Regions from separate parts of the Homo sapiens genome. Here all the other regions are linked to region 6. Evidence: fine-mapped expression QTL. A gene starts in region 6. Each other region holds a variant in brackets. All regions are shown on one strand. Distances are from middle to middle.

The links. PIP is the estimated chance that this variant, and not a neighbour inherited with it, causes the effect.
Region 1: its variant is fine-mapped to the expression of SHMT1 in subcutaneous fat (GTEx, PIP 0.95).
Region 2: its variant is fine-mapped to the expression of SHMT1 in lung (TOPMed, PIP above 0.99).
Region 3: its variant is fine-mapped to the expression of SHMT1 in whole blood (INTERVAL, PIP above 0.99).
Region 4: its variant is fine-mapped to the expression of SHMT1 in cerebellum (GTEx, PIP 0.92).
Region 5: its variant is fine-mapped to the expression of SHMT1 in whole blood (INTERVAL, PIP above 0.99).

The regions. Positions count from the first base shown.
Region 1 is chr17:18,299,050-18,304,210 of GRCh38, reverse strand. TOP3A (DNA topoisomerase III alpha) reads left to right here. Exons shown (of 19, transcript NM_004618.5): 6 at 1,488-1,631; 7 at 1,777-1,947; 8 at 2,226-2,326; 9 at 4,578-4,652. Among named protein-coding and RNA genes, the nearest start is that of TOP3A, 13 kb to the left of the region's middle. The variant G/A (reference allele first, on the strand shown) is at 2,876.
Region 2 is chr17:18,229,489-18,234,649 of GRCh38, reverse strand. It overlaps LLGL1 (LLGL scribble cell polarity complex component 1), which reads right to left. Exons shown (of 23, transcript NM_004140.4): 2 at 4,612-4,709; 3 at 2,074-2,155; 4 at 1,848-1,978; 5 at 714-872; 6 at 475-637; 7 at 242-377; 8 at 1. Among named protein-coding and RNA genes, the nearest start is that of LLGL1, 6.4 kb to the right of the region's middle. RefSeq lists enhancers at 2,462-3,295, 3,296-4,131. The variant C/T (reference allele first, on the strand shown) is at 2,816.
Region 3 is chr17:18,424,110-18,429,270 of GRCh38, reverse strand. It overlaps the pseudogene KRT17P5 and the pseudogene KRT17P2. Among named protein-coding and RNA genes, the nearest start is that of LINC02076, 16 kb to the right of the region's middle. The variant A/G (reference allele first, on the strand shown) is at 2,046.
Region 4 is chr17:17,508,193-17,513,353 of GRCh38, reverse strand. PEMT (phosphatidylethanolamine N-methyltransferase) reads left to right here. Exons shown (of 7, transcript NM_148172.3): 4 at 700-845; 5 at 3,809-3,920. Among named protein-coding and RNA genes, the nearest start is that of RASD1, 14 kb to the right of the region's middle. RefSeq lists an enhancer at 1-625. The variant A/C (reference allele first, on the strand shown) is at 2,385.
Region 5 is chr17:18,280,615-18,285,775 of GRCh38, reverse strand. TOP3A (DNA topoisomerase III alpha) reads left to right here. Exons shown (of 19, transcript NM_004618.5): 14 at 256-369; 15 at 469-634; 16 at 2,935-3,078; 17 at 5,118-5,161. Among named protein-coding and RNA genes, the nearest start is that of MIEF2, 23 kb to the right of the region's middle. The variant C/T (reference allele first, on the strand shown) is at 2,824.
Region 6 is chr17:18,360,687-18,365,686 of GRCh38, reverse strand. SHMT1 (serine hydroxymethyltransferase 1) reads left to right here and starts at 2,137. Exons shown (of 12, transcript NM_004169.5): 1 at 2,137-2,315. RefSeq lists a silencer at 2,043-2,512.

The sequences.
Region 1 (5,161 bases), 62 kb after region 6:
GGTGGATCTCCTGAGGTCAGGTGTTCAAGACCAGCCTGGTCAACATGGTGAAACCCTGTCTCTACTAAAAATACAAAAATTAGCCAGGTGTGGTGGCGGGCGCCTGTAGTCCCAGCTACTCAGGAGACCAAGGCAGGAGAATTGCTTGAACCCAGGAAGCAGAGGTTGCAGTGAGCCGAGATTGCACCACTGCACTCCAGCCTGGGTGACAGAGTGAGACTGTCTCCAAAAAAAAAATGTTCACCAAGAGCATTTTAGTATTTTAGTTATTGGAGGGGGCCTGCCCCTCCACACCTGTGGGTATTTCTCACAAGGTGGAGACGAGAGACTGAGAAAAGAAAGAAGACACACACAAAGTAAAGGGGAAGAAAAGTGGGCCCAGGGGACCGGCGCTCAGCAAGTGAAGACCTACACCAGTGCTGGTCTCAGTTCCTCAGTATTTATCAATCACTATCTTTACTATCTCAGGGAGGGGAATGCAGTGTGACTATAGGGTGTTGGTGGGGAGAGGGTCAGCAGGAAAACAAACAAAAGACTGTGTCATAAATAAGTTTAAGGGAAGGTGCTGTGCCTGGATGTGCACGTAGGCTAGATTTATGTTTACCTTTACATAAACATCTCAGTGCAGTAAAGAGTAACAGAGCAGTATTGCCGCCGTGATGTCTCGCCTCCAGCCATAAGGTGGTTTTCTCCTATCTCAGAATAGAATATATGGTCGGTTGTACACCGAGTCATTCCATTCCCAGAGACGTGCAGGAGACAGATGCCTTCTTATCTCAACCGCATAGAGGCCTTACTCTTTCACTAATCCTCCTCAGCACTGACCCTTTACGAGTGTCGGGCTGGGGGGCTGTAAGTCTTTCCCTTCCCACGAGGCCATATCTCAGGCTGTCTCAGTCGGGGGAAACCTTGACAATACCCAGGCTTTCTTGGGCAGGGGTCCCTGCGGCCTTCCACAGTGCATTGTGTCTCTGGTTAATAGAGAGTGGAGAATGGCGATGACTTTCACAAAGCGTACTGCCTGCAAACACATTTTTAACAAAGCACATCCTGCACAGGCCTAAATCCTTTAAACCTTGAGTCAATACAGCACATGTTTTTGTGAGCACAGGGTTGGGACAAGTCACAGATTATTAACAGCATCTCAAAGCAGAACAATTTTTCTTAGTACAGATCAAAATGGAGTTTCTTTATGTCTTCCTTTTTCTACTAGACACAGTAACGATCTGATCTCTCTTTTCCCCACAGTTACTAGCTAAAATTAACTCCATCACTATTTCTGACAGTACACTCAGTTTAAAGGTTATGGTGATGTTTCCTCTTTAGACACTGTACACCATTGATTTAACCTAATAGGTAAATTGGTCATCTCACAGCTTCTTGAACTGGTTTGCCTTTATTTCAAGGGGCTTTAAGAAAAGTGAGTCCTTTATGATGGAGGGCAGTGTGATTTGACTTTGACCTTGGTAACACCTTGTGTTCTGCAGTAAAGCCCAATCTGCAGGTGTTGCGAGCCCGATTCTCTGAGATCACACCCCATGCCGTCAGGACAGCTTGTGAAAACCTGACCGAGCCTGATCAGAGGGTGAGCGATGCTGTGGATGTGAGGCAGGAGCTGGACCTGAGGATTGGTGAGGAGCTAGGCAGACCTCTCCCATGGCCACATTAATGTTGTGTTATGGGACCAAAAATGGGCTCTGTGTCGATATGTGCAGCCAGCCCTGGACTCTCATTATCCATCATTTTCACCTTCCTTCACTCTCCTTCACTCTCCAGGAGCTGCCTTTACTAGGTTCCAGACCCTGCGGCTTCAGAGGATTTTTCCTGAGGTGCTGGCAGAGCAGCTCATCAGTTACGGCAGCTGCCAGTTCCCCACACTGGGCTTTGTGGTGGAGCGGTTCAAAGCCATTCAGGCTTTTGTACCAGAAATCTTCCACAGAATTAAAGGTAGGGCCTGGAGTGGGTGTTATGGCCTGGGACCTATGGGCTCAAGGTTAAGGAGGGGGACTGTGAGCATTAATAGCACTAATAAAGATGTGATTTATTTTAGTCTTGCTGTCATCCTCCCTGGCCCATTACAATCCACTTAAAGTTCCCTTTGTTATCCAGAAACTCCTCCCTATTTGATATTCGTTTGACTTTCACCACAATAAACCTTTTTCTATCTGTCATATCATGACATGTCTCTGAGACACAGCCTTTCTGTTTGTCTCTCCTTAATATAGTAACTCATGACCACAAAGATGGTATCGTAGAATTCAACTGGAAAAGGCATCGACTCTTTAACCACACGGCTTGCCTAGTTCTCTATCAGTTGTGTGTGGAGGTAAGAACCCCTAATGATCTAGGAAACATTCTGCACACCTCCCAAACCACTCCCACTGTCGGCAGAGGTGATCTGTCTCATTCTCCCATTGGACTTTAGCTTTAAGTTTGCATCTCAGGGGATCACTTTTTGGGAACCAATAAGACGAACCCCATGAGAACAGCACTAAAAGGAAAAGGGAAGTATCTACATTATTTTTAGATAAAATCAGAAATTTTGGGAAACGTATAGTTGAAATCCCCTCTTGGGGCATATACTATCACCAGAAATTAGCAAGGATTATCTAGACCAGTCCAGGTCATTGACTTATAGAGCTAGGAGAGAATGAACAGCATTTGGCTCAGCCCCCTCTTTATTGGTCACATGAGGACATCTAGAGAAGTGAAAGTCACAAATTAGTGGGCTAATTTTATATAGTGATAAAAGCTAGGAAGAAAATAAAGCAAGGTAAAGGGATAGAGAAAGGCCGGAGGGACAGTGAGGGGAGGGGTAACACTTGAGCAGAGGCTGGAGAGATTAGGGAAAGGGCTGGCGGGGTGGGTGGGACAC[G/A]CATGTGTCATAGAAGGGAGCAAGACTGGCCCGGGTCATAGGCCAGTTGGTGGCAGAGTTGGGACCCACCCTAATGTTTCCTGGCCCTTGGGCTGATTGTTTACTTTCTGATGCCACTTCCTATTAGCACATAACAGCCTGGTTTAACCCAGGGGCTGCACAGAGTCATGCTTAAGTAAAATTCCGAGCTCTCTAGGCTTAATTCATGGTGTGCTTCTTGGCTGTAGCCCACTGGCAGATTTGTTACTAATTAGGCAAAGGGATGTGATAACTGTGCAGCACCCGCTATGGACCAGGTACACTTCGTTATGTGTTGTTTTGTTTAATCCTAATAATGCCTCTGAAGGCAGTGATAGCATCCACATTTTCCAGATGAGGAAGCTAAAGAAAGTGAAGAGACTTAACCCACAGACACGTGAGAGCTGTACATGGCAGAGTCCTAGTGTGTCCCTGCCCCTTCTGCAGACCATGCTGCCTTCTCCATCTCTCTCTCACTCCACCCTTTGACCCTGGACCACTGGGAGTCTCTGTGACACTGTACAATTATTTGTTAAATAAAAAGACCACCAGCCTGGGTTTCATAGTGAAACCCCATCTTTCTAAAAAAGAAAAATTAGCTGGGCGTGGTGGTACCTGCATATAGTTCCATCTACTTGGGAGGCTGAGGTGGGAGAATCGCTTGAGCCCAGCAGATTGAGGCTGCAGTGAGCCATGATTATGCCACTGCACTTCAGCCTGAGTGACAGAACGAGATACTGCCTCAAAAAAAAAATCAAATAATAATAAAATATAAAAGTAAGTAATAAAAAGACCTGCCCTGTTTCTCCTTCACTCGGATGTGGTGCGGGACTACGTGGTGGGTGATGTAAACTATGAAGCTGGTTTTAAGATTAAAGGTCTCCAACTTGTACAATTTCTCCTATTTCTTTTTTTTTTCTCCCCCGAGACAAAGTCTAGCTCATTTGCCAGGCTGGAGTGCAATGGCACGATCTCAGCTCACTGCAACCTCTACCTCCCGGGTTCAAGCGATTCTCCTGCCTCAGCCTCCCCAGTAGCTGGAACTACAGGCGTGCACCACCACGCCCAGCTAATTTTTGTATTTTTAGTAGAGATGGATTTTCACCATGTTGGCCAGGATGGTCTAGCTCTCGACCTTGTAATCCGCCCGCCTCGGCCTCCCAAAGTGGTGGGATTACAGGCGTGAGCCACTGTGCCCAGCAATTTCTCCTATTTCTAACTGTATTATCCTGAATTTTTTTTTTAAAGGAGCACTGGGCCAAGCATGGTGGCTTATGGGAGTATTGCTTGAGCCCAGGACTTCTGGGCCAGCCTGGGCAACATAGCAAGACCCCATCTCTGTATTTTAAAGAAAACAACAACAGAAAGAGCACTGTGCACGTGTACATAGAAAACTGTACTCAGGTGATGCATAGGCTGTTGGATTTCATAGGCTCTGGTGGAAGCACCTTAAGGCTTGTGAAATTGCCCTTCACAATCTTGGTTTGAGTGGGAAAGTAGTGATGGTGTCTACCATACTGTCAGCTACAAGCGACATTAAGTGGGGCACTCTTCTAGGCTGTCACTGCGGGCTTAGCTGGCGGTGGTCAGTGTGATCTAGAAGGATTGGCATGGGCTATCCATAGGAAGGATGGAGATGATGCACTAACAGGTTAACATGGTCTTTTCTTTCCTGGCTTTCTAGGATCCCATGGCAACTGTGGTAGAGGTCAGATCTAAGCCCAAGAGCAAGTGGCGGCCTCAAGCCTTGGACACTGTGGTATGTTCCAGACAGGCTGTTTCAGGCACTCGGGGAACACTTACTGTTTTGAGGCTGTGGTTCTACCGCCTAGACTGTGGCTTGGTGGAAGAAAATATCACCCATCACCAGGCCACACAAGAAAACACTGGAGAAAGACACGGTCCTGCTTAGCCTCACTGTTTGTTTTTTTGTTTATTTTGTTTTTGTAGACTCAAACTTCTGGGCTCAAGAGATCTTCCCACCTCAGCCTCCCAAGTAGCTGGGACTATAGTCATGTACCACTATGACCAGCTAATTATTTTTAAAATTTTTTGGTAGAGATGGAATCTCACTATGTTGACTAGGCTAGTCTCAAGCTTCTGGCCTCAAGTGATTCTCCAGCCCCAGCCTCCCAAAGTACTGGGATTACAGGCATAAGCCACCACACCCAACCACTGCTTGGCCTGTTATTTTTTATTTTTTATTTTTTGAGATGGAGTTTTGCTCTTTTTTTTTTTTAATTTTAATTTTATTTTTATTTTTTTTAA
Region 2 (5,161 bases), 130 kb after region 6:
CCTGAGGGGTGGGACAGCGTCAGACCAGACTCACTGGTGGTTCTTAGCAATTCTGCCATTCCTGCTCTGCCCTCCACTGCTCTCTACCTTACAGCTGCCTCCTGCCTCCCCGGGAAGTCGGCGGGAGACACACTGCCCCCAGACCACCCCCTCGGGGAAGTCCCTCCTCAGCCAGTTTGGCTTGGCTCAGTGGTGCCCCCTCCCATCACCACCCTCTGGCTAAGGTGTCCCCAGCACTCACCGTAAGGTGTGGTGGCTACCGTGGGCTGCAGCGTTGGGAAGCTGCCGGCATCCACAGACCAGACAGCATAGCTGCCATCGCTGTGTGAGCTGACCACAGTGCTGCTATCACGCCCCCAGCATAGGCTCTCCAGCTGCTGCGGGCAGGCAGGGGCAGGCAGGCAGGCAGGCATGAGCCATGGTGGGCATGCACAAGGGGCCCAGGCTGAGGGGACACAGGCCTCACCTACATACCTGGTTCCCCAGGAAGATGTGGTCCACACACTGCGAGGCCTGGTTCCAGATGACCAGCAGGCCCCGGCTGTAGCCAATGAGAATCTTTGTGGGGTCCCGCAGGTGTCCCTGGAGTGACTCCACGGGGCCCAGTGCCTTCCCACAGCGGTAGTCGTCTGGCACGCTGTGGAGGAAGGCAGGTGAGCCAGCAGAACTTCCCGGGCACACAGTGGGTGCTGGGAAGCCCACCGGCCTCTTACCTGCGCAGAACCTCGCCTGGGGCAAGCGTCTGCCCCTCGAGCAGGGTCAGGGTGGTAACATCCAGGAAGAAGACACTGCTGCCCTCAGTGCCCAGGGCTGCTATGTCGCTGGCAGCCACCAGCAGGACCACTGTGACTCGGGTAAGGCTGAGCGGAGCACTGCAGGGAACAAGGGGAAGGGAGTGAGGGTACAAGCCCATCCACCTGCTCAGGTGGGGTGTGAGGGGCTGGGCCACTGCTGATAACTCATCACTGGCCCCACAGCACTCACCAGGGCCTACTTACAGAGCCACCCCAGGAAGACATGCATCATCATCAGCCCGCTCAATTATTCATCAGGATGTCAGCAGGGAGATGGATAAAAATAGGGTCCCTAGGTCTTGCAGACTGGGCTCCCAGCTCCTCCCACCCACCAGGAGAGGACAGCAGGAACCAGGGCACTGCCCAAGCCAGGACCAGGAGCTCCCCGCTGAGCCCCTCCTAGGAATCCCGCTGCCAGCGCTCAGACATCTCCTGACTTCGCAGGAGGGCCCCAGATACCCCCATCTGCAGAAGCTGGGAGGCATCAGGAATCCATCCCTGGGTTGGTACTCCCCTTTTCCAGCTATTTCAGGCAGGGCTGGGGAGAGAGATGCCCCACACTCTCACTCAGCTGGGGCATGCTGCCAGCGCCTTACCAAGCACAGCCCATGGGACCCTCCTTGCCCTCAACCCTGCCTATGCACAGAAAGGCCTGTCTCCCACCCACAACTGAAGAGGCCAGGGGACCCTTCCTGTTACTAACTGGCTTAGGCCCTGCCCCAAACCCCTAGACACCCCCATCATTGCAGTAAGTGTAGTGCCAGGCCTCAGGTCCTAGAAGTTTGGCATATAATGCATGTACCTCCTGCTGCTCACAATGTTAATTACCTGCTCACGTCGGACTCAACCCAAACCTCCCATTTAACCTGAAAAGTTCAGAGTATACCTCAGTAAAGCAGGGTCCAACAGCTGCAGCCTGGGACCCAGGCCCAGCTCAAGGCATCCCGCCCTGAACCGCTGCCCATCTCCATGCTGCCTTTGCACAGCAGGTTCCCACAGCCTCCCCCAGATCCTCCCTGCCCGGTGGCTGGCCCCAGCCAAGTTCTCCAGTACCTGGCACCATCAAAGCCGGGCCGGCTGGGCAGCTGGAAACTGAGTGCTTCTTCCAGGTGGGCACAGCCATTATGGTGGACAATCTCCCAGAGATGCAGACTGCTGTCATCAAGCAGGGACAGGAGGCGGCCCTGGTGTGTGAGCAGAGATGAAAACTAGGCTGGCCTAGGGGGATGAGTAGATATGGGGGCCACAGGGAGCTGGCTAGTGGGAAGCAGAGGCTCACCTGGCCGGTCAAGAAGTGCATCTGTGTGACAGTGGCTGCATCCCGGTGCAGGCCTGTGAACTCCACGCCAGGTGCACCATAGCTGAGGGTGGCAGGTCAAGGTGGAAATAGGCATAGACCAGCAAACCACAGTGAGGAAGACACCCAAGGCTCCTCCTTGACCCGGACTATTCCAGTGGGCCCCGGCATGGGCCTGACCATCCAGGAGTCCTCCCTGAAGAACGGAGGCCCCCTCCCTAAAGCTCCCACTCTGCACCCCTACAGTATCCCCAAGATCAGTGTGCAGGCTCCACTCACTCCTGCAAGTCAGGTGCTGCTATAGGACCTTCACTTCCCGTAAATTGGGCCAGTGACTCCCACTTTACAGGACTGTTGCAGATCAAGTGAGAATAAACACACCCAGCAGGCTTGGCCTCAGCCTGGTGAGAGGATGGGGCTCCGCTCCACTTCAGCTCCGTGTGTCTATGGGTTCTGGGAGCTGCGCCTTGCCGGATGGGATCAGGCAGGCCAGAGGTGCAAGGCCAGGCCTGGACAAGAAAGCCAGGGGGCAGAAGAGTCCAGGCTGCCTTTTCCCACAGCTTCAGGCCAAACTTCAGCCATGGGTAAGAAAACCCACCTCCTCTGGGCACGGTGGCTCGCTCCTGTAATCCCAGCACTTTGGGAGGCCGAGGCAGGTAGATCACAAGGTCAGGAGTTGAGGACCAGCCTGGCCAAGATGGTGAAACCTCGTCTCTACTAAAAA[C/T]GCAAAAATTAGCCGGGCATGCTGGCAGGCACCTGTAATCCCAGCTATTTGGGAGGCTGAGGCAGAGAACTGCTTGAACCCGGGAGGCAAAGGTTGCAGTGAGCCAAAACTGTGCGACTGCACTCCAGCCTGGGCAACAAAGAGCAAGACTCCATCTCAAAAAAACAAAACAAAACAAAAAAAACCCACCTCCCTCCAAAGCAGGCAGCCAACAACTGCCATCATGAGGGAGGAGAGACTCCAGCCTGCCCATTTCACAGATGAGCACACAGACTTGGAGGGGGTGGATGACCTGCTTGAAGTGCCCAGTGTCAGTGCCTGAGTCCCGGCAACTCCAGGGCTGATGGTGGACAGCAGGGCCTGAGGGGGCCCCATGACAGAGGGTGCAGGGAGGAGTCAGCAACGTTGCCCCGGTGACAACACAGGAGCCGTTGCCTGGAGCTTGAGCTCAGATTCCCTACAGGAGCCTGGCGAGAAACTCCGAAGAAGGGACAAAAGAGGGGACAGGAGCAGCTGGGCGGGAACCAGGGTCGTCAAGGAGATGGGGCTGGCCTGGCAGGGGGAGGGGCAGCTTCTAGTGACCAGGGCTGGCCCTCTCCAGCCTCAGTTTCCCAACCCAAGGGGCTCCAGGCAGTGGCAGTCAGGGGAAAAAGGGAAGAGGACCCCGGGCTCCAGCCTCCTTTCTGAGGCTCAGTCTCCTCATCTGCACTTCAGGTTCTTTTTGAGCCTGAGGACAAGTGCACTGGAGACCCCAACACAGGAGGGACACCTGAAGGCTGCAGGGACACATGTGCGCACGCAGCGCAGCACCCACAGGAGTGGGAGCAGCAGGCCAGGCAGCGGAGCATGTGGGGCCCAGAGCACTGCCACACTCACCAACAGAGGCCGCTGGGGCCATGGGAGAGAAGGGGACATCTCAGCCCATCCACACTCCCCAGAGTAGGCAAAGAGCTCACAAACCACAGGCTCAGAGTCCCATCCCTGCCTGATCAGTGCCCCCAGTCCTGGGGTGAGGAGACCCCCATCCCACACCCTCCCCTTTCCCAGCACTGACACATTTTCTGGGAACTGATGTCTGAAACCAGGATACTGAAACCCAGAAGGCCACACAGGAGGGGTAGGGGTCAGCACCCCTCACCAAGCCGCCATCAGCCAGACCCTGGCACCTCGGCTTCCCCAAGAGCAGTTGGGGTGGGATTCTCCAGGGCTGGCAAGGAGACACTGAGCTGCCGGCCTGCCCCCACCCCCACCCCAGGCCTGCAGGGAAAATGCCCGCTTTGTGTGGCTCACACAGCCCATTGTGCAGCAGCCAGTATCCAGGTGGGGGCCGTGCTGTGCTCACCATGCCGAGCCTGGCACTGCCCCCAGGCCCCTTTGCTGAACACATGTGTCTTCACATTCACACATGTGTGCATCAGCTCACCAGGGCCCCCAGCCCACCTGCCACCCTCCATGGGTATCATAGCCCAGCCTTCTGCCTGGCCTCCCCAGAGTTGCTGGGACGATGGCAGGGTCGCCTAGGTAACTGGCTGGCTGACACGTAGCAAGGGACAGCTGTGCTACTGCAAACTGACCCCCCACCACCCGTCTCTCAGCAAAAGGACCCCATCATCTCTGCACAGTTGTCTCAGGTACAGAAGCCACGCCAACCTCCGCAGAAGCCCCCACTACTGCCCATCAGAGCACCTCTGTCCTCCTCTCGAGCTGGACACTGCCAAGACTGGGACCCCAGAGCACAGGGAACTACAGGCAGGTGGTCCTGAACAGACCCTGAACACCTGTCCTGCAAAGGATACATCTTGACAGCCCCAGACCTGGTGCCGATGGCCATGATGCGAAGTTCCGGGTCGAAGGCCAGGGCGCTGGGCTGATTGGGGAAGCCATGCTCCACAGTCTGCAAGGAGGGGAGGGCTGCTGGGGGTAAGCACTCCCAGGCACCTCTGCCATGGCCCACCCTGAGGCCCACCCCAAGGCAGCCTCCAGGGTCTGCAGCTGACACACTGGGGGTAGGAGGCAGGTCTACTTGCTCTGTGCCTCAGCGTCCTCAACTGTGAAATGGGTTATCATGCCTCCAGTTGGTGGGGAGGTGGCTAAACCCCTAGCCTCCACCATGACTGTACCGCGTGCATAGTCCACAGAGGCCCGCCCTTTGCCAAGCCCCTGTGCCCCTCAATGCACACAGGCTCATGTGGGCCCCACTGCATGGAGGCTCCAGCAACAAACAGGTGAAGCAAGGCTCACAGAGGTGCAGGCACTGATGAGGCCCCACCTGCTCCATGAAGGGCTCTGCACCCCATTTTTAGAGGCACAGACTAAAGCTTGCGGAGGAGTCCCGCAAGATGACCA
Region 3 (5,161 bases), 64 kb before region 6:
CAGTGTGGTACAAAGAGGAGTCTGCCCTGCACGCTGGACCCCAAGGATCAGGGCTCCGCAGACAGGGAAGCCCTCTAAGGTGACTAATCCCAGTGCGCCTGCTGTGCTCTCTCGCACGGCCTCAGCCATGGCCCAGCCCCAGGGCTCTGCCACCCACTCCTCAGCATCTTTGACCTTCTGCCCCAGCCACCTCACCTCGTGGTTCTTCTTCAGGTAGGCCAGCTCCTCCTTGAGGTTCTCAATGTGCATCTCCGGGTCGGCTCTGGCCAGGGTCAGCTCATCCAGCACCCTGCACGGGCCATTGATGTCGGCCTCCACACTCAGGCACAGGGCCTGCTCTGTCTCAAACCTGCCATGGGAATCAGGGACTTCAGCCCAGGCTGCTTGGAATTGCAGGTCCAGGTCCTGGCTGCTCACCTGCCTTCATTTTGCCAGGACTCTAAGGGGTTGGAAGGGCTGATGAGAGGGTCGAGTGGAAACGAATTCCAGCCCCGGGGCCTTGGGACCATCACAGGGCCAGATCCTACGCCCACCAGCTTCCTTACTTCTCTCTGCCTCCTGCCTCCCCTCCCTCTCTTCTATTCCCTGCCTAAGCCCAGCAACCTTCAGAACTGGCTGCCTTCACTGCATCCTGGACTAAGTAGTGGGGCTCCTAGGATTGCCCCACCCTGAGCTCCTGGGCCTTGCCACAAGCAACCAAGGAGTCCTGGGGTCAGGAGGGGTACCCTGAGATCCTCCCCCAGCTGACCCAGGCTGCCCAAGCCCACAGCTAGGACTCACTTGGTGCGGAAGTCAGCAGCAGCCAGATGGGCATTGTCATTCTGTAGCAGGATGTTGGCATTGTCCACGGTGGCTGTGAGGATCAGCGGAGATGGGAGAGTAGTCAGGTCATCGGATGGGGGTGGCTGAGCCCACACCAGAGTTCTGAACAGATCTTCCTGCCTGGGGGCCTCTCTTCCCGCCCAGCCCCTCCCTTGCCCCGTGCTGTATTATTGGCAGAGGAGGGGCAAGCAGGAGTCTGAAGGGCTCAAAGGTGCCTCTTCTTCCCCCGCTACTCAGTACCCCACCAGACCCCCATGCCAGGCTCAGCCTTAAAGGAGAAGAGACAGCTGGCTGGGAGTATGAGGCAACCAGAAAAGAAAGGGAAAATGTCCCCAGGGCAGAAACTGTCCCAGAATTCTAGAACAAGGGAGGGGATGTGGGCAACCCCCTCGTTTTACAGTCAGCTAGAGGGTGCCCCTGACAGGCTCCCCCAAAAGGAGGCTAAAGGAGCCCTCACCAAAGAGTGGTCCCAAATCAGAAGTCAGGACCCTTCCTAATCCCTAACCCTGGGCTCCAGCCAGCAGCCCCGCCCCCTGCGGTTTGCTGAGCCTGTCTTAAGGGACAGCAGGAGGAAAGGAGAAGCCAGAAAAATCCCCAAATAAGGCACATCAGAGGCCTTCCCCACCCTGAGGTCCCACCCCCTCCTTTCTGCCTCCCACCCGCAGCAGGTGCTATCGGGAGCTCACTCAGACACCCCCACTCCACACCTCCCAAAACCCCTTCCTGCTGACCCCTGCTCCAAAGGAGCAAGACACCACGCATCCAGTGGCCCATGGGCCCAGCCCTCCATCTGCATCCTCCTGCCTCATCCTACAACCTCTCCAGGTGGAGGAGCTCCACGAGGGAGAAACTGAGTCTCCAAGGGGCTCCACGAGGCCTGTTTGTTCCTGACTCAGCCTACTGCCCCCAGAAAAGGGGGATGTGGGCCACACAGGGGCCCCAAGGCAGGTTCCCAGAAGCTAAGCCACAGCCAAACCACCCTTGGCTCCCTGAGACCCTATGGCTGGACTCCAGGCCTTTGGCCAGGGCAGGAGTTGGGGGGAAAAAGTCATGCCCCCCGGAGACCCCTCCCACCAGCAGGCCCTACCTTGTTCTGCAGCTCCTCGATTATCCTGTAGTACTGGCTGTAGTCACGGGCGGGCCCCGGGGCCTGCCTCTGGTACCAGTCACGGATCTTTACCTCCAGCTCAGTGTCGGCCTCCTCCAGGGCACGCACCTTGTCC[A/G]GGTAGGAGGCCAGGCGGTCATTGAGGTTCTGCATGGTGGCCTTCTCACCTCCGACCAGCAGCCCATCAACGCCCTCAAAGCTGCTGCTGCCATAGCCACCGCCAGAGCCAAAGCTGTAGCAGCTGGAGTAGCTGCTACCCCCGAGGGCGCTGCCCAGGCCACCAGCAGATCCCGGCCTGCAGGAGCCGGCACCCAGGCCGCCAGACAGCTGGCAGGAGGTGCGGGACGAGCCGCCCCCCAGGCCAGAGGAGCCCTTGATGGAGCTGGAGGAGGTGAACTGGCGGATGGAGGTGGTCATGGTGGCGGCGGCAGGAGGCAGGCACACAGGAGAAGGGCTGGAAAGAAGAGGGGCCCCAAGTAGTGTAGGGCTGCCGGGGTTCACAGGCTTCCTTTATAGGCCACCAAGTGGGCGTAGCGATTACAACAGGCTCCTCTGTTTCCCTTCCCCTGGGCTTTCATCACCACGGGCCACCTGCCAGCTCCCAGGTGGCTGGGGACCCCCTCCCCACCCATCATCAGGAATTTGCCTCATTTCTCCAAATCCTCGTGCTGGGTGCCACGCGTGTGCGTGCCACTGCTCTGAGGCCCGTCACCTGTGATTTGGGCGGGCCCTCCAGCTATGCTTTCCCATGACCTAATATGGGAGAAGAGGAGAATACAGGACTTCACCGTCCCCAGGCCCTCCCAGGCAGCCACCACCCCAGCCCGGCCCACCTCAACCCTGTCTGGTGGGGAAATGGGTTGCAATGTCAGGTGACCACCCCCTGAAGTTGCTGTCTTTCACCCCACACTGCTCCACCCAAGGTGCTGGCCCGGGGCTGGGTGCTGAAGAGAAAGAAGGGACCGAGAGCCTATCCTGCCTTGGAAACTGAGCCCAAACCCACCAGGCCCACCTCACAGCATAGAAATGCCATCAAGCCTCGGAGACCAACCCACATCGCAGATAAAGAAATTGGGGCTCCAGAGGGGTGCAGTGTCCACACTGGCCCCTTCTGCAGAGTCTGACACCCAGGAATGCACTCTAGGGGCTACAGTTCCATCCAGTCAGCTTCTGACCCTGCCCCATCCCTAGAAGCCCTTGCTAACCCAGTCTCCTCGTGTAAACCTTTCCCCAGGTTTACACTCCAGGCTGGGGTGGGCAAACAGGGGCTCAGCTATAGGATGGGGGAAAGGTGGGCCGTGCTAAGAGAGGATCTAAACCAACTGAGAGGGGGATGCCCCCTTCCACTCCTCTCACCCTTCTGTACCCCAAGAGACCTCAGGGTCAGGGGAGGGGCATTTCTCTCAGGTCTCAGCCCACAGGAAACCTAAAGGACATTGCCCAAGAAGAGGCTCTTACAGAGACCCCAGCCAGCCAGCCCCCTCCCCACTCCAGGCTCCCCAAGATGTGGCTCCTCGGGCGGGCCAAGTGCCCCACTCCACAGCCCCACCCTGCCCTGCCCACCACCCCAAGCCCCGCCCTGGGTCCCAGGGTCCTGCCAGGCCCGCTGGGTGGAAGGTGGTCATGTTTCAGACTGCCAATGGCTTCCACTTCCCAGACAGGCCCAGGTAGCCCCACCAGCAGCGGAGAGAGATTCCTCAATAGCCCAGTGGCTGCCAAGCCACCAAAGCAAACAGGACACCCCCCATGCGTACACGCACAGCGGCCACCCTGCCCCACACACACCCCGAGCTGGGCAGAGCCGGTCTGCTTTCCTGGGCTAGCTGCCTCGCTCTCACCCCCTCACTCATCAGTGCCCTGGACCACTCCTTCAGAAGCCCCTCCCCACCGAGCCCCTCTCCTTCTGCTCTTGAACCCACCCTGGGCTGAGGCAGGGAGTGCTCCCCAACAGGTGTGGTCCTTGGAAAGTATGTGTGGCCCTCCCAGGGACCAGCCACAGGTGACAGGGACTCAGGGGCTGATTCTTAGAAACTTTTCCCAATACAAGGGGCTGTCCCTTCCCTCCACCCTTAATCCTTCCTCCTCCTCCCCTCTGGTCTTCTAGGAGCCCCAGGCCTGGATGGAGTGGGCAGAACAGATTGGCAGGTGACAAGCCAATACCCAAACACTCAATAAACTCTCCACCTATCCCAGTCCCTCAGCCCACACTGCCCCAAACCAATGAACAGACCAGATCACACGAGGCATTGAACTTGGAGCAAAGCTTTAATAGCAGGCACTGGACAAACCCAGGAGGCCTCCTCAGTGAGGGGCTGCAGAAAGTAGATACAGAAAGACAACAGGTCATGGACCAGTGCCCAGACGGACACTCGGGGCGTGGCAGTAGCATGCTGGGAGCTGCAGCTGATGGCTGTGCCATGACCCTCGAGGTGGGGCTGTCACAGGCAGAAAGGGGCCTCAGTGGGTGGAGAGATGGACCTGCTTACAGAAGACCACCTCTCCAACCTGGACTTCCTCCACGATGGCACACCTGGTGGCTGGTCACTGTGGCTGCAGGCGATGGAGGAGGGAGGCACAGGGAACATCAGGCAGGAGCTCTTCCCCCCACCTGCCCGAGTCTGTGGTCCCCCCAGTCTCCCACACAGAAGGGTCCTCAGCCTCTCCGCCGCCTTGGGGTCCACACAGCAGGACAGGGCAGCTTCTTACCTTCCCAGGTGGGCTGCGAGGCCAGGGACAAGGAGTACTGAGTGGCCAGCCTGCAGGGAGAGGAGCACCCATCGACCCAGGGATGCCAGCCAGCCCAGGCCCCTGCAAGCACTGCTGGGGAGAAGCAGGCCCTGGCAGAGGAGGTTCCCCTAAATTGGTGAAAAATCACAGTTGGGAATGCACAGAAATTAGCACAGGCCCAAGAATGAAAGGGCAGGGGTTCAGTGCAGCAGGAAGAAGAAAAAGAAACAGCACAGCAGTAGGCCTGGAGGCACTCACCAGGAATTTACAAGGAGAAGCTGAGCAAGTGGTTTTTCCATGTCCCAGAGGACCCAACAAATAGACCCAATTAAAGCAGGAGAGACTGTCGTTAGACTATAGATGGACTTCACCATTTTCGGGGAGCAAAAAGCTGCAACGTGTGACTAAGCATGGAGACTCCAGGACACACTCAGCTGAAGGCCTGATCACCCTTCCCAACTGCAAACCCGACCACCACCCACCATGCTCTTCACCCTGTGGCTGATG
Region 4 (5,161 bases), 850 kb after region 6:
AAGTGCTGGGATTGCAGGCGTGAGCCACCACACCTGGACCCCACTACCTTTTTACAAGGCCTTCAGTGGTTTGGCCCCAAAGGGAGCCTAGTGGGGGAATTCAGGTGTGGAGGAGGACATTAAGGGCCCCCAAAGTGCCTTTAAATGCAAGTCAAGCCACCCAGGATGTGGCCAGACCCACAGGGGCTGTGGAAGCGCAATCCCTAGCACAGAGCATGCCCCAGGCCTCGGGGCACTGAGTCTGTTGGGGAATGGGACACCTGGGCCTGCCCTGCAACCTGGCACCTGCGTCTTTCCTGAGCCTCACTTTCCTCCATAGTATGAGTTGCTCATTGGACAGGATGAGAGTTTGCAAGCTGGTGGCCTTCGGGCTGAATCCAGCCTGCTCACATGCAGGGTCTAAAGTGGCTTTCATGAATTGTCTATTTCTAAAAATTAGGATATTTCACATACGAGTCAGGATTTCTGGCTTCTCTTGAAAAAATTTAAAAATCTGACAGGCCTGGGCCCCTCCCTGTTACTGTCACCCACCTCCCAGGTGGACTGGACCCCACCTGCTGCCTGCCTGGCCTGGCAGCCCTGGGCTGGCTACTCTCTAAGGGTCCCTGGGGAGAGGGCGAGAAGATGAGGTCGGCCTCCTCCCGGGCTGTGACATCCTCCCTGGCCATGACGTCCTCCCTCTCCATCCCCTGCCCACAGCTTCACGCAGGCCATGCTGAGCCAGCCCAGGATGGAGAGCCTGGACACCCCCGCGGCCTACAGCCTGGGCCTCGCGCTCCTGGGACTGGGCGTCGTGCTCGTGCTCTCCAGCTTCTTTGCACTGGGGTTCGCTGGAACTTTCCTAGGTAAGACCCTGAGGGCTGGGGTGACCCTGAGCAGGACCGCTGGAGCCCCAGGGAGGTGCAGGGCCAGGTGGCTGCTGCCCTGCTATCCGTGACATCGGTGGGAGTGCTAGGGGCCCCCTCCATCGGGGCGTCTTTGCTCCTCCAGGCCTGGCTTGTCTGTGGTTAGAACAGGAGGCTGGGCTCCAACAGCTCCTCTTACCCCAGCGTGCTGAGCGGCTGCCTCCTGGGGAGTGAAGGCAGCTCCTGCTGCTTCTCTCCAGCTAATGAAGATGCACTCAATGCCCGTTCTGCGGCCCGGGCTGGGTGCAGGACTCCTTGAGTCCAGCTCCAGCACCAGCTCCCCCTTGCAGAAGACTCTCAGGCCTTGTTGCACAGAAGCCTGAGGTGGTGGTGAGTCAGCCACCTCTCTGGCAGCTCCCGGCACGCGTGGCTCTCAGGCCAGGCAGGATTGTGGTTTGTGCCGTGTTTGGCCGCAGGCAGGGCTGGTGTAGGTCTGGGGAGGGGTGAGGGGTGGAGGCACCTTATCCCTTCTCCATTTCCCTCTGCCTGTGGCTGAGGTGCTTTCAGGCTGTGAGCCCAGTGCTGGCCTGGCTAGACGCCCACCAATGACCCTGATGATGGCAGCAACTTCCAGCTCCTTGGAATCTGGGAAAGAAAAGCAGCCATGGGAAAGGCAGTAGGGGTCGGGGTGGGAGGGGAGATGGGGGCAGGGGTGGGGGACAAGAGGGGGCCTTCGGAACCTGGAAGGAGAGAAGGAGGCAGTCCCTGTCCAAGGGGAGCCCCTCCCAGTGAGCAGGGAGTTGGTCCAGCTGGCCGCATTGCCCGCTCTCCGTCATGGGTGGGAAGGCCCACGTCTTCCTCCCCATCAGCCCTGGCCAGTGCAGGAGCTTGGAAGTCACTCGGCTTCAGTGGCCTCAGTAGCCTCCTGGGACCAACGGTGTCCTGAGGAGCTCCCGGGCCTGCCTGCCATCCCCATCCTCAGATGCCGGCTACAGCTCCTTGGGCCCAGCCCCCAGGGCACCGTGGGCTGTCACAGGGCACTCCAAGTTCTCAAGGAGCTTGTGCCTGCCAGTAGGGGTCCCCCCGAGGGAGGAAGTGGCATCTGTGGGTGCAGCATTCTGGATCGCCCATGGCCAGGCCTCTCTGGGACTGTGGGGGGCACCCACAGGCAGTTCAGTGCTTCCTGCTCAGGCAGACGCTGTAGGGAGTTTGGTCCAGGAAGGGGGACAGCAGCCAGGAGCGTCTGGATCTGCCAGGTGGGGGCAGGTGCGGGCAGGTAGGAAAGAGAAAAAAGCCTTGGTGCAAGGAGAGGGAGGTTGAGGGCAGAGTAGCTGGCAGCTGGAGGTGGGGGGCAGCTGGACTGGCCGCACAGGTGCTGTCGGTTGGGACAGGGCAGGAGGATGAGCCGAGGCCTTGAAGGCCATCCAAGGGGCTGAGGCTCCATCCCCAGAGAGGTGGGAGCCATAGGGGGGGTCCCAGCAAGGAAGAGGTTGGACCGATGGAGCCAGGATCAGAGGTGGGGCTCAGGAGGAGCTGTGG[A/C]GGGGCCCTTCCAGGATGTGAGGGCGGTGAGGGCCCCATGGGAAGGGGGACTCCGGGCTGTGCAATCAGGTCCTGTGGGAGACCAGCGGCGGGGGCCCTCCAGTGGCCAGTGCTCGGGTGGATCTGGACAGGGAGGGCTGCAGAGGCAGCGTAAGGAGAGCCAGGATGGTGGGTGGAGCCCCTCAGCAGTGGAAGAACAAGCTGGGGGTCCTGGACAGTCAGAGGGAGGGAAGGAGCCTGCAAACACCAGTGGCCACAGCCTCCTGGCGGCCCTGCCAGCAGACATGGCCTAGAAACACCGAGGACCAGCAGCGCGGTATGTAGGCAAAGGTGGTCACTTCCTGCTGTGACTCAGCTCGAATTGGGTTTCTGTGCCATCTACGCACACCCTGTGCCCCACTTCCTGCTTCCTGGGAAGAAAGAACTTTCCAGTGGTCCTGGGCCCTGCCCCGTGTCCCCAGATGGTGATGAAGCTCCTGGACCCCTCCTGCCCATGCTGCCCATTGTCGGGCAGCTGCCCTACTTTCCGCCTTGGATGAAGCTCCATTGTCCTCTGGGAGGAGAGACAAATGAGGGGTTTCTGGGGACAGAAGGCTGGGAGGAACGAAGCCACACCCTTTATGGAGCGGTTACTCTGTGTCCAGTGGGACTGTCCTCTGTGGGCCTGGGACAGACACTGTGACTGTGACCCCGGCCACTCCCTTATGGCTCAGAGCAGCTCTGCCGGGGGACGCCTTGTGGCTGTGCGGCTGACGGGTGCATGGCTGGCCTGTCTGGAACAGGCTGTTCAATAGTCACCCTCTCTCCACTGGGTCTAGCTCCTCTGGGCAGCTGAGTGAGAAAACAATACCAGAGCTGACCTCCCAGAGCAACGGGAGGCGTGCTGTGGCCAGGCCCTGGTGCCAGAGCCACACAGCCTGGGGTGTGGAGCAGAGCAGCCCTTAGCAACCAGCTGAGGCCCCTAGAGGGAGAGGAACTCACCAGAGCGAGGAAGAGTGGGAGGTAGGACAGGAAGAGGAAGGGTCTGCATAAAGAGGCGCCATGAGCAGAGGGCGAAGGGCCTGAGGAGGAAAGGCGCTCTCTGTACAGAGAGCAGGGAAAGGCATCGCAGGGGAGGGAACAGCGTGTGCAGAGCCAGGAAGAAGAGGAAGGCCAGCATGGCTGGGTCAGAGTGCTCGAGAAGAGGAGCAGTGGGGCAGGGGCGGTGCTCAGCACCTTAGTCCTTAGGCCCCACGCCCTCTGCTGTCTGCGTGCCTGTTGGGTCCCTCTGACTCTGCCCATTGTTGAACTCTCTGAAGTCTCCTGGAGGGCAGGGCCCTGTCTCACCTGCAGGTCTCGCCACAGCCCGCTCTGGGGCCTCCCTCAGTGATGGTGTGGCCAGGGCTGATGAATAGCCGAGGGACCCTGCCTTGCCTCATCCACAGGTGATTACTTCGGGATCCTCAAGGAGGCGAGAGTGACCGTGTTCCCCTTCAACATCCTGGACAACCCCATGTACTGGGGAAGCACAGCCAACTACCTGGGCTGGGCCATCATGTGAGTACCAGGCTTGCCACCCCTCTGCCCTGCTGGCCACCTCCCGGAGAGGAGCTGGTGCAGCTCAGGACGCGGGGGCCAGGGCCCCTGGAGAGAGAGAAAGGAAGAACGTGTCATTTGTGGGGGCCTAGGCGCCCTGGTTCTCCCTTTCTCAGAAGCGTCTTATCTATGGTAACAGAAACAACATCCCAGAACAGGGTGGTCAGCTTCTCCAAAGAGGGCTGGAGTGTGGAGGCTCAAAGGCTGCAGGCAGGTCACAGCTGCTCAGCCCTGGTCCTGCCACACAAAACAGCTGCAGACGCAGGAAAATGGATGCGCGTCTTTGGCGCCAGCACAGCTCCACTTACAGACACTGAAGCCTAAATTTCAGATTCTTTTCACGTGTCATGAAACATTCTTTTTGATCCTTTTGCTTTTAACCGTTTAAAAATGTAACAGGCGTTCTTGGCCCCTAGGCCGTAGTTTGCGGACCCTTGTGCGGGGACATCAGGGCTGGGACCACCCGACCCATCTTCCCCGCAGGAGGGGTTGGCCAGAGCCGCCAGGGCCCAGCTCACCCGCAGCTGACAGAACTCCCTGTGCCCCAATAGCCTCTGCCCATGTGGCAGATACCCCTTCCCACAGAGGGGGCCCCGTGCCATGAGGGAAGCCTAGAACTGCTGTCGGCCTCAGCCAGGTACGGGTACTGACAAGGTATGGAGATGTGCTCCCCCGGCGGGTCAGAGGACCTGCGGTCAAGGATGGCACAGCGGGCGCTGCCCTCGGCTTCATACCCAGCCCCCACCCCAGCAGTTCTAGTTTAGCCATTTTCTTCCATAGAAGGTTTTTTGGCAGACAGTGTTCCACTGCTTTTGTTTAACACTTGAAAACCACTGGCCTAGAATTTACAGGTTCTCCACAAGACCTGAGGATCCCAAAGGAGTGAATCGTAAACAGTGAATGTCAAGCGCAAGATGTTGCCTCCTGGCTCCCACCTTCAGCAGTTGGGACCGTAGCAGCGGGGGTTGGAGACAGCAGAAGCTAGAAGGGGGGCTGTGGGTCTGGCTGGGACCCACCCTACCCCCACCCCACGTCCAGGCCAGGCAGTCCCCAGGGACACGTCCTACCTGCCTTCTAGCCTGGTCCCTCTGCCTGCTAAGGCCCAGACTATGTGCCCCCAGGCTCACCGGCCATGGAGCACCCCCACTGGGGCCACAGGATGAGCCCAAACTCAAAACAATCCCCCCCACCCAGGTCGTCCC
Region 5 (5,161 bases), 80 kb after region 6:
GGGAAGAGAATTTTTAAAAAGAGCTTTGAAGCTGGAATTGACAGCTTTCCTGAGTAATGGGATGTGAGGGAACAAGAGAGTTGAGGTTGCCATTGTGATTTCTTGAATGAGCTATATGGGAATGAAATGAAGGCATCTTACCTGCATAGGCTGTCCAGGCAAAGGAGGGATTCCGGGGTGAGCAAGGTGCCCATGCGCCACCCGGGTGGAGCTGTTGTCTGTATTACCTCAGAGTAACCAGCAAGTGGCTTCCAGGTACGGATGCCACTCATGCGGAGCACATCGAGACCATCAAAGCCCGGATGTACGTGGGCCTCACCCCAGACAAGCGGTTCCTCCCTGGGCACCTGGGCATGGGACTTGTGGAAGGTAAGGGAGGACAGAGCTTGCAGTGGGTAGTGGGTGGTGTCGCCCAAGTCCCTGAGGGTCTCAGGTGGGCCCTCACTGAGCTCGACTCTCTCCCTGCAGGTTATGATTCCATGGGCTATGAAATGTCTAAGCCTGACCTCCGGGCTGAACTGGAAGCTGATCTGAAGCTGATCTGTGATGGCAAAAAGGACAAATTTGTGGTTCTAAGGCAGCAAGTGCAGAAATACAAGCAGGTTTTCATTGAAGCGGTGGCTAAAGCAAAGAAGTAAGTCCTTAAAAGAAATACAGAGGGGTCTCACTATGTTGCCCAGGCTGGTCTTGAACTCCTGGCCTCAAGAGATCTTCCCACCTCAGCCTCCCAAAGTGTGGGGATTACAGGCGTGAGCCACCGCATCTGGGCCAGTCAGAGTTTATAACCCTGCCAGATTCATCCTCACCAGTGGCCTCCTGGCCTGGAGGTTTTCCACATACCCCTTTTCTTTGGACTTTCTTCTCTGGGTTCTTTTACAACTCTCCATAGAGCTTTGTCAGTATAGAAACAGTAATCGGAACAGTCTCCTTCAGTTATTCTGAACTATTGGCTTTAGAAATACCATTCTCTTGATTTTAATTATCTTTTTTTTTTCTGCTTTAATTACATGACACATTAATTATCTTGAGTTAGGCAACAAAGTCTTTTAAATCAGTAAACCCAAGTGCTGGAGTGTGATCCATTTGTTTTCTGGAGCATTTAGAGGTGGATATTTAGCAAGCAGCATGTGTGTATTTTGTTAGAAATGATGTGTTTTCTACCTGTGATATTATGATTTATAATAAGATATATATATTTGGACTTCATTTTCTGATACCCTTGGAATTTTTTAAGTGCTGTGTCTGTTGTATACAAATGAGATGACTAGTGGCCAAGGGCTCCTGGGTAGCCTTGGGATCGGTCTGGTTGTCAGGGAACCAACCCTGTGATTAGAAGGTTGGGACTTTGAGTCCCACCCCTACCTCAGGAAGAGCAGAGGGGCTGGAGGTTGAGTTGATCACACGTGGCCAGTGATTTGTCAATCATGCCTAAGTAATAAATCCTCCATAAAATCCCCAAACAAGGGTCAGGCACGGTGGCTCACGCCTGTAATCCCAGCACTTTGGGAGGCCGAGGCGGGTAGATCACAAGGTCAGGAGTTCAAGACCAGCCTGGCCAACACAGTGAAACCCCTTTCTCTGCTAAAAAAAAAAAAAAAAAATACAAAAATTAGCCAGGCATGGTGGTGCGTACCTGTAGTCCCAGCTACCTGGGAGGCTGAGGCAGGAGAACTGCTTGAACCCGGAAGGTGGAGGTTGCAATGAGCCGAGATTGCCCCACTGCAGTCCAGCTTGGGCAACAGAGTGAGACTTCTTCAACAACAACAAAAACAAATCAAACAATTGGGTTTGGGGCACATCCAAATAGCTAAACAGGTAAAGACTCCTGGAGGGTGGGTGTTTGGGAGAGGGCATGGAAGCTACCCCTTCCCCACATCCCTTGCCCTGTGCATTGCTTCCATCTGGGTATTCACCTGGATCCTTTGTAATTAACGGGTAAGCATAAGTAAAGTGTTTCCCTGAGCTCTGTGAGCCACTCTATTGAGAATCAAACCAAGGAGGGGGTCTGAGGAACCCCAGTTTATAGCCAGTCAGTCAGAAGCACAGGTCACAGCCTGGGATTTGTGACTGACATCTGAGGGAATTTGGGGCAGCAGTCTTCTGGGACTGAGCCCTTAACCGTTAGATGGATCTCCAGGTGCATAGTGTCAGAATTGAATTGAATTAGAGGATGTCCAACTGGTGTGTGGCGGGAGAGTTGCTTGGTGTATGGGGAAAACTCCCATACATCTGGTGTCTGATGTGTGTTGTGAGACTGTAATAGAAGATAACAGTTTGTTATTTTCTGTTCTTTAGAGTACCCCATGCCAGTTGTGAAAAGGCAGGCATGAGCTAGTTTAGACTTAATACAGACAGACACTCCTGGAGTTTGTACATGGACCCTGTGCAGTTTTACTTTTTTTTTTTGAGATGGAGTTTCGCTCTTGTTGCCCAGGCTAGGGTGCAATGGCGTGATCTTGGCTCACCACAACCTCTGCCTCCTGGGTTCAAGCGATTCTCCTGCCTCAGCCTCCTGAGTAGCTTGGATTACAGGCATGCGCCACCATGCCTGGCTAATTTTGTATTTTTAGTAGAGACGGGGTTTCACCATGTTGGTCAGGCTGGTCTCGAAATTACAACCTCAGGTGATCCGCCCGCCTCGGCCTGGGATTACAGGCGTGAGCCACCACATTTGGCCCAGTTTTACTTTTTAATGTGGGCTGGTGACAAGCAGAAGCATCTGCCTGTATCTGGACTCTCCTCCCAAGAGTTGGTTCGGCACCAGGGCCCATGGTGAGCTCAGTCTTCTGTCTGCCGTCTGTTCTCTGCAGGAGGCCTGCGGCT[C/T]ACTGACCAGCTGGTTCTCAAGGTCACGCCTGTTGTGTGCATGTAAGAGTGTTGTAGGTGCCTTTGCAGCGATTGCTGGCTGATGGGTGTCTGTCTTTGCCTTTTCTTCAGATTGGACGAGGCCTTGGCCCAGTACTTTGGGAATGGGACAGAGTTGGCCCAGCAAGAAGATATCTACCCAGCCATGCCAGAGCCCATCAGGAAGTGCCCACAGTGCAACAAGGACATGGTCCTTAAGACCAAGAAGAATGGCGGGTGAGTGCGCTGCCTTCTGCCCCCACCTCTGCTCCCCAGCACCTGCGGTGTCAGCCGTAGCTCGAAAGACCCTGCCATTTCACTCCATGGAATCTTTCAAGACAGGCCTGTTGTTGCCAACCTGCAGGCAAGGTGTTGGCCTAAAAGCATAGCAGGGTGGGATCAGGCCTTTGAGGTGTAAAGCACTATGGGAATTCAGAGCAGGTGAGAAACTGAATGATAGTGGGGTTTTTTTGTCCCCTGTGGATAGGACATCATATACCCAATGTGTAACACATGGAGGAGCATGAGCTTCAGATCTAGGTGGGTCTGGGTTCAAATGCCACTTATGCCGCATATAAGTGGTGTGGCCTGAAGCAAGTTACTTACCTGCTCTGAACCCCAATTTCTTCTTTTATAAAATGTCAGTACTTACAAGGCTGTGTTAAGGGTGAGGATTTGGTGAAAATGGTCAGGACTATATAGCACATTGCCTGATGTGTTGTAGATACTCAGCAGATACTACTTTTGTTCTCTCCTAGTTTTAGTTCTGAATGGGGCCTGAAAATCTCAACTCCCTTTTCGCTTTAAATATAGTAGATCTGAGTGGGCAATTTAGCTTCACATCAGGTTGTTGGAGCCAGTGGCTGGCCACTGGAGGAAGTTCACGGGGAAAGACGAGGTGGAGGGGTGGCAGCCATCATTCATCAGGTGCCGTCCCTCACTGGTGTAATGCAGGGTGGTGCTCTGTAAGCATTACCTCATCCCATTCTCCTAACTACCCTGCAAGGCAGGGATTTTTATGCAGCTTAGAGGGCTGAGGTGCTTGCTTGGAGTCAAGCAGCCGTGGTGGGCAGCAGAGTTTGAAACCGGGTTTTCACTGCCTTTTTCCATCCTGCCTGGCCCACCTGGGACTGCTGTGCTCCTTGCTGCTGAATAAGAAAGGAGGTTTCTCAACTCCTCACCTCCAGCCATCATTAACCTGGCTGGCCCAAGTGAAGAGAAGGCCACCCAGGCTCTCAGAAACAAGAGGTCTATGGGCCAGACCTGGAAGCAGGTGTCAGGGCTCGCGTCACTCACAGACAGAAGCCAGTGCCACTCTAGGCTTAGCCCAATGACTGGGCGTATATTTCAGCACTTAATAAATGCTGTCGATGGGTTTTCCTTGCTATCGGTAGGTTATTGGATTAGTACTCATTGGAATATAAGGAGAGAGAATAACTACTTTTGTTTTAGCTCTGAATTCTCCAATTCTCTGAATTGGAGAATTATTATTATTCTTTAGTTATTCGTTTGTTCTTCTGTTATTCTTTTGTAATGCTTCTCTGAGTTACTCCAGAAGGTCAGGAGATTATCTTGTGGGATTTGCCACTCCATGATTTATCTGTTAATTTCCATTTCTGAGATTGTAAATTTCTTATTTAAATGATTGGAGTTCGGGGCTTTTTTTTCCTTCATAGTGTACCCAGGCACACTCATGAGGAATTTGTAAATCACATGCATATTAGCTAGTCAAACCCTAACGTTTCATGACTGCAAGGTGTTGAAAAACATTGGCCAGGAGAGACCGGGATGGGATGGATGGGCAGTGGGTGGGGTGTAGATGTTGCAGGTGAGGCTTTGTCACAAACAGATGGGTTTCCATTCCTGGCTCCCATCCACACATGCATGCATGTCTCTGGGCAGGTTTCCAGGCCACACCAAGCCACTGTTTACTCACATGCAAACTGAGGGGGCCCCTGACACTGCCCAGACTTGGCACGAGGCAGAAAGGCAAGAATGTGTGAGTGCACAGCACAGAGCCCCTGGCGTCAGCTTGGTTGGTTGTTGGTTTTCTAAATAGAAAGCAGGGCCAGCAATAGCTGCTTTGTGCTTTTGGGATGTGAGAAGGCTCATTTTTCCCAATCAATTCAATATGAGTGCTTGTGTATCCAGTTAAGTGTCATCCAGAAAAGGGAATGTTGTCCTCGGGCAGCTGAGGAAAGGCTGCCTTAGCTGATGGCCAACAGCGGAGAGCATCTCCTGCACTCCTATCATCTGACATGGCACTTTGTCCCCAGGTTCTACCTCAGCTGCATGGGTTTCCCAGAGTGTCGCTCAGCTG
Region 6 (5,000 bases):
ATGCCTGTAATCCCAGCACTTTGGGAGGCCGAGGCAGGCGGATCAGAGGTCAGGAGATCAAGACCATCCTGGCTAACACAGTGAAACCCTGTCTCTACTAAAAATATAAAAAATTAGCCGGACATGGTGGCGGGCGCCTGTAGTCCCAGCTACTCGGGAGGCTGAGGCAGGAGAACGGCGTGAACCTGGGAGGTGGAGATTGCAGTGAGCGAAGATCGAGCCACTGCACTCATGCCTGGGCGACAGAGCGAGACTCCGTCTCAAACAAACAAACAAAAAGAACAATTAGCTGGGCATGGTGGTGCACGCCTGTAGTCCCAGCTACTCGGGAAGCCGATGCAGGAGAATTGCTTGAACCAGAGAGGCAGAGGTTGCAGGGAGCCAAGATCGCATCACTGCACTCCAGCCTGGGTGACAGAGCGAGACTCCATCTCAAATAAATAAATAAATAAAACAAAAACAAAAAACAAAAACACTCACTATGTTGGCCAGGCGCAGTGGCTCTTGCCTGTTATCCCAGCACTTTGGGAGGCCGAGGAGGATGGATCACTTGAGATCAGGAGTTCAAGACCAGCCTAGCCAATATGGTGAAACCCTATCTCTACTAAACATACAAAAATTAGCCGGGTGTGGTGGCTCACGCCTGTAATCCTAGCACTTTGGCAGGCTGAGGCAGGTGGATCACAAGGTCAGGAGATCAAGACCATCCTGGCTAACATGGTGAAACCCTGTCTCTACTGAAAATACAAAAAATTAGCCAGGCGTGGTGGTGGGCTCCTGTAGTCCCAGCTACTCGGGAGGCTGAGGCAGGAGAATGGCATGAACCCAGGAGGCAGAGCTCGCAGTGGGCCTAGATCGCGCCACAGCACTCCAGCCTGGGCAAGAGAGGGAGACTCCGTCTCAAAAATAAAAAAAAATTAGCCAGGCGTGGTGGCGGAGGCCTGTAGTCCCAGCTACTCAGGAGGCTGAAGCAGGAGAATGACGTGAACCCGGGAGGTGGAGCTTGCAGTGAGCCGAGATCGCGCCACTGCACTCCAGCCTGGGCGACAGAGCAAGACTCTGTCTCAAAAAAAAAAAAAAGTTTTTTTTGTATTTTTTGTTTGTTTGTTTTTCGAGATGATGAGGGTCTCACTCTGTTGCCCAGGCTGGAGTACAGAGGCAAGATCATTGCTTACTGCAACCTCTGCCTCCCAGGCTCAAGTGATCCTCCCATTCAGCCCCCCAAGTAGCTGGGACTACAGGCGACTGCCACCACACCCAGCTAATTTTAAAATTATTTGTAGAGACAAGGTTTCACCATTTTGCCCAGGCTGGTCTTGAACTCCTAGGCTCAAGCCATCTGCCTCGGCCTCCCAAAGTGCTGGAATTACAGGGGTGAGCCACTGCGCCCGGTTTTTATCATTCTTATAATAATTATTGTTATCATTTGACAAATAAAAAAATTTATGACGCAGCCTCAGGTGGTCCTGACATGTGGCCCCGGTTTTTATCATTCTTAACAATAGGTAATGTTCATTGAGTCCTTATTGTGTGTCAGTATTTTATTTATCTTATTTTATTCTTCTTGAGACGTTGTCTCGCTCCGTCCCCCAGGCTGGAGTGCAGTGGCGCGATCTCGACTCACTGCAACCTCCGCCTCCTGGGAGGCAACATAGTTAGACCCCCATCTCTACTTCAACCTGGGGGACAGAGTGAGACCCTGTCTCAAAAAAATAAAAATAAAAAATAACAAAAATAATAATAATAAAGTGTCTGCTCTTGGATTATACACCTACAGAGTAATAATGTTGCAGTTTGGACGCACATTTGTCCTACTTTAAATGACCACCCTGCAAACTAAAAGTAGTACCATGAACAAAATTCACTCATAATCCCACGGCCCAAGCGACAGGCTTAAGTGAGGAAGGCCCTGTGTAGTCTTCCTGGAAATCTTGGTCCACACACCAGCCCTGCAGCCAAAGCGGGTCAGTTCTGCAGGTCCCTGCCCCAGGTGCGCAGCTGCACTACGCGGCCTCCGGCCCGCCCCGGAGAAACAGGCCCTGCCCGCCGCTGCGCCGCAGCCAATAGCGCGGGTGCGTTTGGTGGCGGCCCATGCTTGGCTGCGCTCTCTGATTGGGCGCCTCCGGGGGCGGGGCCAAGCCCAAGCCTGGCGCGCAGAGTGCACCTTCCTGAGCTCGAGCGGTCCAGCGCCAAGTTCGGGGTTTGGGGTTGGAGCGGCTGGTCACGTGGCTGGCCCGCGGCGGTGCGCGGGGCGTTGGGTCAGCGGGTCTGGGACTGGTGGCACCGGCGGCGGCGTAGGACGGAGGCGTCGCTAGGTACGTGCGCGGGCCGTGTTCCGGTAGGTGGGCGGCTTCGGGTCCGAGGGCCGCGGCGTCCCAGAGCCCGGGGGGTGCTTCGGCGTCCTCGCTGTCCCCCGCCGTACCCCACCCTCTGCAGCCGCAATGACGGGAGGGGAGCGCTTGGGTCGCGCCTGGGCTGGGGATCGGGCGGCGGCCAGCCGCAGCGCCCCAGTTCCAGGCACATTCGGTATGATGGGGTGGCGGCCCGTGGCCTTTGGCAAGAATGCGAAGGCTTATCGGGGATGTGAGTAGTAGCTCTCCACTGAACACTTTTCTCGTTGAGCATTTTCGATTTAAACAATCCTAGCTCCTTCACAACAAAGCTGCAAGTCAAGTGCTACTGTTTCCCCCATTTTACAGGTGAGGAAGGTGGTGGGGCCCTGAGAAAGGAGGCAACTTAAATGGCAGAGCCCGGAATAGAACCCGGGTTCTCAAAGCCTGCGCCCCTAAAGGCTGCGCGCAGGGTCGCTCCACTTTTGGCCCGTGCCACCAGATCCCTGTGGGGAATGAGCTCTTCCTGTTGCCCGCAATCTGCCACCCCCTGTTCTAGGAGACAAATGTTGCACTGTGAAGTTCTTGGCCCGGTGCCTTGGCTTCGAGATTCCGGGAGTTAAGTGACCCTTGGTCCAGCTGAGGTCAGCACAGATGCGGGCCTTCAATCGGGCAGTTACCCAGAGAATAGACTGGAAACACCAGTTTAGGTTCTTGCAGAAATAACATTGTAGGCCGGGCGCGGTGGCTCATGCCTGTAATCCCAGCATTTTGGGAGGCCGAGGTGGGCGGATCACTTGAGGTTAGTAGTTGGAGACCAGCCTGGCCAACATGGTGAAACCCCGTCTGTACTAAAAATACAAAAAAACCTGGCTGCCCATGGTGGCACACACCTATAATCCCAGCTACTCGGAAGGCTGAGGCAGGAGAATCGCTTGAACCCGGGAGGTGGAGGTTGCAGTGAGCGGAGATCACGCCACTGCACTCCAGCCTGAGTGACAGAGTGAGACTCTATCTCAAAAGAAAGAAAGAGAGAGAAAGAAAAGAAAAAAAAGAAAAGAAATAACGTAAATTTATTACTTGGGGGAACTTGGAACGGAAGTGGGTAATTGTGTTTTTATTTAGTGCAATGTCCTGGGACAAGGCCTTGGAACTGAAGAGAAACCATTGTTCAGATTCTGGCTCTTATATGGCTTTAGACAAGTTAGCTCCCTGGGCCTCAATTTCCTCTTCTGTAAAGAAGAGAACACAAAATGTGTGTGAGATAGAAGATGTGCAACAAGTTAGTTCCCTGAGCAGATCCTTGGCTGGATCCTCTTATGTGACAGAGGCCCAGGTAAGATTTGGAGGCATGGGGAGGCTGGTGACCTTGCAGGTGACTTCACTTACTAGGTCTTTTTCCCTGACGTTGAGGATCATGCCACACATGAGCAACAGTGCCTCTACAGAAATATCCAATGTTGTAATGACTGATGTTGCAGTGAGCTGTGTTGGCTGGGGGACTTACCAGGTATTACTGAATGTTAATGAAGATGTCCCTAAGATTCCCAATTTTCTTTTTTTTTTTTTTTGAGACGGAGTCTCACTCTGTTGCCCAGGCCGGAGAGCAGTGGCGCGATCTCGGCTCACTGCAAGCTCCGCCTCCCGGGTTCACGCCATTCTCCTGCCTCAGCCTCCTGAGTAGCTGGGACTACAGGCGCCGCCACCACGCCCAGCTAATTTTTTTTTATTTTTGTAGAGACGGGGTTTCACCATGTTAGCCAGGATGGTCTCGATCTCCTGACCTCGTGATCTGCCCGCCTCGGCCTCCCAAAGTGCTGGGATTACAGATGTGAGCCACTGCACCCAGCCCCCTTTTTTCTTTTTTGTTTTTTTTTTTGAAACGGAGTCTAGCTCTGTCACCCAGGCTGGAGTGCAGTGGCATGATCTCGGTCCACTGCAATCTCTACCTCACTGGTTCAAGCTATTCTCCTGGTCTCAGCCTGCTGAGTAGCTGGGATTACAGGCATATGCCACCATGCCTGGCTAATTTTTGTTTTTGTTTTTTTTTTTTTTTTTGAGACAGAGTCTTGCTCTGTTGTCCAGGCTGGAGTGCGGTGGCACGATCTCAGCTCACTGCAACCTCCTGGGTTCAAGCGATTATCTTGCCTCAGCCTCCTGAGTAGCTGGGGTTACAGGTGCGCACCACACACCCAGCTCATTTTTGTATTTTTAGTAGAGATGGAGTTTTACCGTGTTGGTCAGGCTGGTCTCGAACTCCTGACCTGGGGTGATGCACCCGCCTTGGCCTCCCAAAGTGCTTGGATTACAGGAATTGAGCCACTGCGCCCAGCTAATTTTTGTATTTTTAGTAGAGATGGGGTTTCACCATATTGGCCAGGCTGGTCTCAAACTCCTGACCTCAAGTGATCCACCCACCTCGGCCTCCCAAAGTGCTGGGATTACAGGCGTCAGCCACCGCGCCTGACCGCTTTTTTTTCTTTCTTTAGAGAGACGGGGTCTCCCTATGTTGCCCAGGGTGGTCTTGACTCTTGTGGTCCTGTGACTCCCCAGACTTCAGGTGTGCAAGCCTGATTTCTGACCCTTGGCCAGTCACACTTTCTCCTTTGTCTGGCCTTTGAACTTGGGGTGCTCTGCACTTGTTTACTCTGCGTAGATTGCTCTCATCCC